Linked DNA regions of Homo sapiens: all the other regions are linked to region 1. The links come from fine-mapping of genetic effects on gene expression. A gene starts in region 1. Each other region holds a variant in brackets. All regions are shown on one strand. Distances are between the middles of the regions. Region 1 holds the start of PRKACA (protein kinase cAMP-activated catalytic subunit alpha). Region 2 overlaps ADGRL1 (adhesion G protein-coupled receptor L1). Region 3 overlaps ADGRL1-AS1 (ADGRL1 antisense RNA 1).

Region 1 (2,500 bases):
TCCCAACACACAAACAGCAATGCTTTTATTAAATTTTACTAAACCTTACCATGTATCTATCCATCCAGAGGCGGAGTGGTCAGCCATTTCCCCATAGTTCACAGAAAGGCTCTGACTCTCCCTCCCTGGAACTGTGGTTGATCTGGGAACATGGGGGCAGACAGCAGCTGGAGAAGGTGGAGGCTATTCAAGTCGAAGCAGCAGATCGGCTTGTAGTTAAGCCCAGCTAGCCCTTCCGAGTCGGGGTGACCTGGCTTCTCCCCTCCCCTGACCCTCTCTTAAGTGCTTCTCAATCAGGAGCAGTTCGGCCCCGCAAGAGCACATTCACCAATGTCAGGAGACAGCGGTTGCCACAGCCAGCAGGAAGATAGAGGAGGGGCTACTGGCATCCAGTGGGTAGAGGCGGGGGATGTTGCTCAACACCCAGTGGTGCACAAGACACCCCCCAGCAGAAAATGATCCAGCCTCACCGTCAGTAGTGTCGCAGTTGGGAAACCCCGACTGTCCTCTGCTAAGTGTGTACTGAAAGAGGATCCTGAAGGAAGGGGCAGGTTCCCTTCGCATTGCCCAGACAGGAAATACAGACGGGGAACAGGAGCAGGGAATCTGCCTGGCTGTACCCCAGATTCCTCATCTGTGCAATGGGAGTGATGATGGTAGCACCTACGCGATGGGAGTGTGGTGCGAAGGAGCGTTAAGTGGGTGCCAGCTCTTACTACTGGCAGGAGCCCAGGGCTAGGGCCCAGCAAAGGGGTGGACACTGAGCGCCCCTTCCCAGCCACCCCTTGCGCCGGGCCCGGCATCCTCCTGAGTGCGGCTGGGAAAACCCAGGAGGCCCCGCGGCCTGGCCCCCAAGCAGGCCTGGCCTCGGCCGCCCAGCGCCAGGCCTTATGAATGACGCCGGCGGCGGCCGGGCGACCTCTGACCCGCGCGCCGGCCGCGCCCCTCCCCCGCTGGCAGGTGGACAGCGGCTGCGCCGGGCAGGCCGCGGCGCCAACTCCGGCTGGCCGACAGCCGCTGCCGCACTGAGCGGGGGCGGGGGACTGCGGCGCGCGCGGGGCCGGCCGGGCGCCCGCCGGGGCCGCCTCCTGAGCCTCGGAGCGCTGCGCGGCCGCCAGCCAGCCTCCGCCGCCCCGCCCCGCCGGCCCGGGCCCGCAGACTGCGTCTCCGCCCCGCCCTCTCACCCCCGGATTGACACTGAGCGTTCTGCTGGGGGGCTTGGCGGACCCGGCACCTCCGCCAATCGGCGGCCTCGCAGGGCGGACCCCGGGCCCAGTCCAGCGTCTCGGCCAATCGGACGCGTCTGCCCGCCCAGCTGCGGCCTCGCGAGCGAGTGAATGGCCGAGAGTCCGCGGTGCGTGTCCCGAGGCTGAGAGCCTATAGTGGCGCGGGAAGGTCGCGGGAGGGCCAATGGGAGGCGGCGCTGAGCCGTCAGTCAGGGCGGCCTAGGCCAATGAGCGGCGGGCTGCGGGGGCGTCACAGACAGCGGCAGAGATCTTGGGCTGAGGTTCCCGGGCGGGCGGGCGCGGAGAGACGCGGGAAGCAGGGGCTGGGCGGGGGTCGCGGCGCCGCAGCTAGCGCAGCCAGCCCGAGGGCCGCCGCCGCCGCCGCCCAGCGCGCTCCGGGGCCGCCGGCCGCAGCCAGCACCCGCCGCGCCGCAGCTCCGGGACCGGCCCCGGCCGCCGCCGCCGCGATGGGCAACGCCGCCGCCGCCAAGAAGGGCAGCGAGCAGGAGAGCGGTGAGTGCCCGGGCTGTGACCCCGATCTTGGCCCTGCGCTGCCAGCCCTGGCCTTGTCCATCATCGCCTGGCCCCTCCCCCTACGGGGCCCCTCATCCTCTCTGCCTACCCCCCAGCGCCCCTTGCCCCGGCCTGTCCAAGGCTGGGGCCCGCGGGCCCGCAGAGTACCCCCTGTAGGGGTCCCCTTCCCCTAGGGCCGCCCCATGCTGCAAAGACCGTGCTCCCCCCCAGCTGTCACTGCCAACCATGGCACGTATGACCGCTGGGGCCCCACATGGGCCCCTGTCACCAGCCTACCCCCTCCTTTCCTGGCCCCTCTTCCCAGATTCTAATCCCCCCACTTCCTCACTCACCTCTCTCACCTATGGGATCCTCTGCCTGACCCCGACCCAGGTTTCTACCAGTTTGGGAATGCGATGAGGTCTGTCTGCCTCCACCGCGCAGGGACCTTGGCCACTTGCTGACCACACCCCTCCCCCCTCCAGCCCCCGCCATCTTTCTCCTGCCCTTTCCCTCTTCACCTTAGCACAGCCCCCCCTTCCAAACCCATCCTGCCCCCTGAACATTTCCCAGAGCCACCTCCAGCATTATTTTTTTCTTCTGTGTCACTTGGCATGGGGGACAGGATCTTTCTGGGTCCCTCTGCCTCTCTCATCCTGTCACTCTGTCATTCTGCTGCTCTGCTTGTGCTCCGTCCTCCAAGCAAGCGTCTGTCCCTGGCTGGGGTAGCAGACTGTTTATGAACGTAGAGAATTGCTTCA
Region 2 (2,500 bases), 59 kb before region 1:
GAATTTTCAGGGGAACACAGTTCAATCCATAACAGCATATCTGGTGTAGCCCGAGGACCCCAGGAAAACAGTCACTCTTATCAAGCAGAGCATTCCAAAGGCTCAGACGTCACTTCCTAGGAGCTGAGAGTCCAGGCACTCTCTGGGCCAGGTTAATGTCCTCACTACACAAGTGGGCACACTGAGAGGCCCATTCTACAGCTGAATCAACTGAGGCTGCCTCAGCTGGCTTCCAGGACACAGCCGAGCCAGAGGTGGTGTTTTCTTGGCAGTGGGTAGGGTCTTCCCTTCCTGGCCCAGGCCCAGGAGTGACACCATCCCCAACCCTCCCTGCAGGCCTGAGCCGGGCCGGGCTCCCGTTCGGGCTGATGCGCCGGGAGCTGGCGTGTGAAGGCTACCCCATCGAGCTGCGGTGCCCCGGCAGCGACGTCATCATGGTGGAGAATGCCAACTACGGGCGCACGGACGACAAGATTTGCGATGCTGACCCTTTCCAGATGGAGAATGTGCAGTGCTACCTGCCGGACGCCTTCAAGATCATGTCACAGAGGTGAGTGGGCTCTCGTGGCAGTTCCTGGATGAAGTGCCCGCCTAAAAGCACTGCACACCTGCCAGCACACCCGTTCACCTTACATCTTTTTTTTATGCATTCAACACATGTTTACTGAGCACTTAATAGGTGCTGGGCCCCATGCAGACGAGAATAAGACCCAGTACATCTCCCCACAGCCAGCCTGTGCCCCCGACAGAGGCCTATACCCATACATACACTGGGAAGTCCCTCCCCCCACCAGCCTCTTGCTTCCATAACTTCCATCCCAAGATTAGCCAGGGCAGTTTGTTTGTTTGTTTTTGAGATGGAGTCTTACTCTGTTACCAGGCTGGAGCGTGGTGGCATCTCAGCTCACTGCAACCTCCACCTCCTGGGTTTAGGCGATTCTTCTGCCTCAGCCTCCCAAGTAGCTGGGGATTATAGGCGCACGCCACCACGCCTGACTAATTTTTTTGTATTTTTAGTAGAGACAGGGTTTTGTAATTGGCCAGGCAGGTCTCGAACTCCTGACCTCAGGTGATCTGCCCACCTCGACCTCCCAAAGTGCTGGCATTACAGGCATGAGATGAGCCATCACACCCAGCCTTAGCCAGGGCAGTTTGGAGCTTGTAAAATATAAAGAACAGCAGGACAGAGCGAAGGTGTCATGGGAGGACTTTTCCCTTCATCCCAGACTCTTTTTTTTTTTTTGAAGATAGGGTCTCACTGTTGCCTAGGCTGGAGCACAGTGGCACAATCACAGCTCACTGCAGCTGTGACCTCTCAGGTTCAAGCAATCCCCCTGCCTCAGCCTCCTGAGTAGCTGGGACTACAGGCGCCTGCCACCATGCCTGGCTAATTTTATTTTATTTTTTGTAGAGGCAGGGTCTTGCTATGTTGCCCAGGCTGGTCTTAAACTCCTGGCCTCAAGCAATCCTCCTGCCT[C/T]GGCCTCTCAAAGCGCTGGGATGACAGGCATGAGCCACCGCACCCACCCATCCCAGATTTGAGAGCTCATCAGGCTACTCCAAGGAGGAGACACCTGAGCACAGATGATAGAAGCACAGGCCTGTGTGAGTGATTGTGTGTGGGGTGAATGCTTGAGCATGCAAGACTGTAACTTGGAGTGTGTCTGTGTGATTGCATGCATCTATGAGTATGACGGTGTATTTGTTTTATTTTATTTAGTTATTTAATTTTTGAGACAGAGTCTCAGTCTGTCACCCAGGCTGGAGTGCAGTGGTGCGATCTTGGCTCACTGCCACCTCCGCTTCCTGGGTTCAAGCGATTCTCCTGCCTCAGCCTCCCGAGTAGCTAGGACTACAGGCGCGCACCACCACGCCAAGCTAATTTTTTTGTATTTTTAATAGAGACGGGGTGTCACCATCTTGGCCAGGATGGTCTCGATCTCTTGACCTCATGATCCGCCCACTTGGCCTCCCAAAGTGCTGGGACTACAGGTGTAAGCCACTGCGCCCGGCCTGTTTTGTTTATTTTTGAGACAGAATCTTGCTCTGTCGCCCAGGCTGCAGTGCAGTGGTGTGATCTCAGCTCATTGCAACCTCCACCTCCAGGGTTCAAGCAATTCTCCCGCCTCAGCCTCCCGAGTAGCTGGGATTACAGGTACGCACCATCATGCCCAGCTTATTTTTGTATTTTTGTACAGACAGGGTTTTACCATGTTGGCCAGGTTGGTCTTGAACTCCTGACCTCAGGTGATTCACCTGCCTGCCTTGGCCCCCTTAAGTGCTGGGATTACAGGCGTGAGCCACTGCGCCTGGCCTGTGTGTGTATTTGAGTGTGAGTATGTGTGCATTTTTGAGTGTGTGACTAAATGTGTGTGATTGTGACTAAGTGTGTCTGTGTGTCTAAGTGTATGTGAACAGGTGTAGGTGTGTGCAGATGTGTGTGACTAAACATGTCTTTGAGTGTGTCTGAGTGTGTCTGTATGAGTGTGTATTGGAGTGTGTA
Region 3 (2,844 bases), 25 kb before region 1:
GGCAGAGGTTGCAGTGAACCAAGATCACACTCCACTCCAGCCTGGGTGACAGAGCAACACCACGTCTCAAAAAAAAAAAAAAAAAAAAAAGAGTAGATAATTTTAACTATATGTGATTTGACCTCATGCTCTGATTTGAAATCGAATCCCGCATACAATGAGAGCCAAATATGACCAGTCCTTCTGTGTCTTTTACTCTCCCCTTCACTACACACAACCTAAACCCACTGTGCCTGACTGGACGCGGTGGCTCACGCCTGTAATCCCAACACTTTGGAGGCCAAGGCGGGCGGATCACCTGAGGTCAGGAATTCAAAACCAGCCTGGCCAACATGGCAAAACCCCGTCTCTACTAAAAAAAAAAAAAGAAAAAAAAATTAGCCAGTTGTGGTGGTGGGCGCCTGTAGTCCCAGGTACTCGGGACTGGGAGGCAGAGGTTGCAGTGAGCCGAGGTCACGCCACTGCACTCCAGCCTGGCGACAGAGTGAGACTCTGTCTCAAAAATAAAAATAAACCTGCTGTGCCTGACAACCTCTGACCCTCAGGTAGTTGTTAGTGGCACCCATTCATCTGCATGTGCCTAGGGACGGTACATTTATGCTGAAATGTATCATTTCAAAGCTCTTTCCTACATTTTGTCTCATTTAATTCTCAGAATATATGTTTTGTTTGTTTATTTTTGAGACAGAGTCTCACTCTGTTGCCCAGACTGGAGTGCAGTGGTGCAATCTCAGCTCACTGCAACCTCAGCCTCCCGGGTTCAAGAGATTCTCCTGCCTCAGCCTCCTGAATAGCTGGAATTACAGGCACCCGCCGCCAACCCCGGCAACTTTTTGTATTTTTAGAAGAGATAGGGTTTAGCCATGTTGGCCAGGTTGGTGTCAAACTCCTGACCTCAGGTGACCCGCCCGCCTCGGCCTCCCAAAGTGCTGGGACTACAGGCATGAGAGACTGGTCCAAAAAGCTATTCGGGAGGCTGAGGCAGGAGAATTGCTTGAACCCGGGAGGCGGAGGTTGCAGTGAGCCAAGTTCACACCATTGCACTTCACCCTGGGCGACAAAGCAAGACTTTGTCTCAAATAATAATAATAATAATAATAATTTTTAAAAATGCTGAACATCAAAACATTATAAAAATTAAAAGATGTCTGGGTGCGGTGGCTCATACATGTAATCCCAGCACTTTGGGAAGCTGAGGCGGGCAGATCACCTAAGGTCAGGAGTTCGA[T/C]ACCAGCCTGGCTAACATGGTGAAACCCCATCTATACTAAAAATACAAAAATTAGCCAGGCGTGGTGGTGCACACCTGTAATCCCAGCTACTCAGAAGGCTGAGACAAGAGAATCGCTTGAACCCGGGAGGCGGCGCTTGAACCCGGGAGGCCGAGATCGTGCCATTGAACTCTAGCTTGGGCAACAAGAGCGAAACTCTGTCTCAAAAATAAAAATAAAAATAAAAGATAAGGACACTGAGCAACAGGAACACTAACGAGGGGAGTGAGAACCAGTACCATGATTCCGAAGAGCAGATTAGCAGTATCTTGAAAAGATGAATACTTCCGCAACCCCCCGTCCAGCACTTCAACTCCTAGGTTTATCTCCCAGAGTAACTCCTACATGTGTTCAAGGAGACATAGATACCAACGCATACTGCAGCACTGTTTGTAATGGTAGAAAACTGAAAACACCCTAAATTTCAACCAAGTGAATTGATAAACACTGTCCAACAAAACTCTCTGTTCTCATGGAAATGTTTCCTCTCTATGTTCTCTATACACCATGGTGGCCACTAGCCACAGGCTCCTGCTGAACATGTGAAATGTGACTAGTGTGTCTGGGGAAGTAGATTATTTGTTTCGTCTAATTTTAATCTAAATAGCCACATGTGGCTAGTGGTTACCTTATCAGCACAGCTGTATAGCAGTGAAAATAAGTGAATTAGAGCTATACACGTTTCCACATAGATAAATCTCAAAAGCATTACACTGGATTAAAAAAAGCAAGTTTCAGAAGGCAGGACCCAGTGCCACCTTAGTGCCAGCTCTGTCAGGATACACCCAGTATGATCCTGCTATCAGAGGTCCCCAAGACCACCCTGAGGTTCAATGACTCACTAAGAGGAGTCACAGGATTTTGCTTGGAAGCGTAGGCATGGCTGTGATTTATGATAGTGAAGAGACACAAGGCACAATCAGCAAAGGGAAAAGATGCAGGAGCTGAAGTCCAGAGGAAACCAGGACAAGCTTCTAAGAGTCCTCTCCTAGTGGAGTCACACAGGACTCCATCAATTCCTACCGCCAAGTATGACAGCACGACGGATAGGCGGTCTACCAGGGAAGCTCATTACTCAGTGACCAGAGTTGTACTTGGGGGTGGTCGTGTACCAAAATGCCAGACTCCAGAAGGAGAGCAGGTGTTCAACATGAACCACATTGTTGGTGGAAACAGTTTAGGCACTCATCATTTGGGGAACGGCAGGAACCCTCCTGAAATCCAAGTTCCTAGATATCAGCCAAGGGCCAATCTTGCAAACAGGTCTTTCTAAGGATAGCAGTCTCAGGCCTGCTAGGTTAACTCTAAATTGCGCAGACACCATTTATATAAAAGTATAGAACATGACAAACAATACTATATATTGTTTAAAGATACACGCCGATATGCACAGAAGACTGTAAACACCAAATTCAGGGTTGTGGTTACATGTGAGGAAAAAGGAAGAGGAATGGGTTTGATGTAGGGGTATAGGGCCCTTCAGTTGCATCTCTAATGTTTTAGCTGTTAAGCTGGGTAACAGTATTTTGCTATAGCACTTCTTATACTTTCTCGAGCATGTGTGCACCTGAAGTAT

What was found. PIP is the estimated chance that this variant, and not a neighbour inherited with it, causes the effect. A credible set is the group of variants that fine-mapping cannot tell apart.
Region 2: its variant is the best candidate, but not a certain one, in a credible set for the expression of PRKACA in whole blood (TOPMed, PIP 0.54).
Region 3: its variant is the best candidate, but not a certain one, in a credible set for the expression of PRKACA in whole blood (TOPMed, PIP 0.55).

The regions. Positions count from the first base shown.
Region 1 is chr19:14,116,741-14,119,240 of GRCh38, reverse strand. It overlaps PRKACA (protein kinase cAMP-activated catalytic subunit alpha), which reads left to right and starts at 1,479. Exons shown (of 10, transcript NM_002730.4): 1 at 1,479-1,739. The coding sequence starts at 1,694. LOC124904642 (a long non-coding RNA gene) reads right to left here and starts at 1,027. Exons shown (of 2, transcript XR_007067144.1): 1 at 50-1,027. RefSeq lists silencers at 859-1,418, 1,829-1,898.
Region 2 is chr19:14,175,581-14,178,080 of GRCh38, reverse strand. It overlaps ADGRL1 (adhesion G protein-coupled receptor L1), which reads left to right. Exons shown (of 23, transcript NM_014921.5): 3 at 337-550. Among named protein-coding and RNA genes, the nearest start is that of ADGRL1, 29 kb to the left of the region's middle. The variant C/T (reference allele first, on the strand shown) is at 1,478.
Region 3 is chr19:14,141,902-14,144,745 of GRCh38, reverse strand. The region is part of intron 1 of ADGRL1-AS1 (ADGRL1 antisense RNA 1); the gene reads right to left. Among named protein-coding and RNA genes, the nearest start is that of ADGRL1-AS1, 6.2 kb to the right of the region's middle. RefSeq lists a silencer at 1,475-1,769. The variant T/C (reference allele first, on the strand shown) is at 1,229.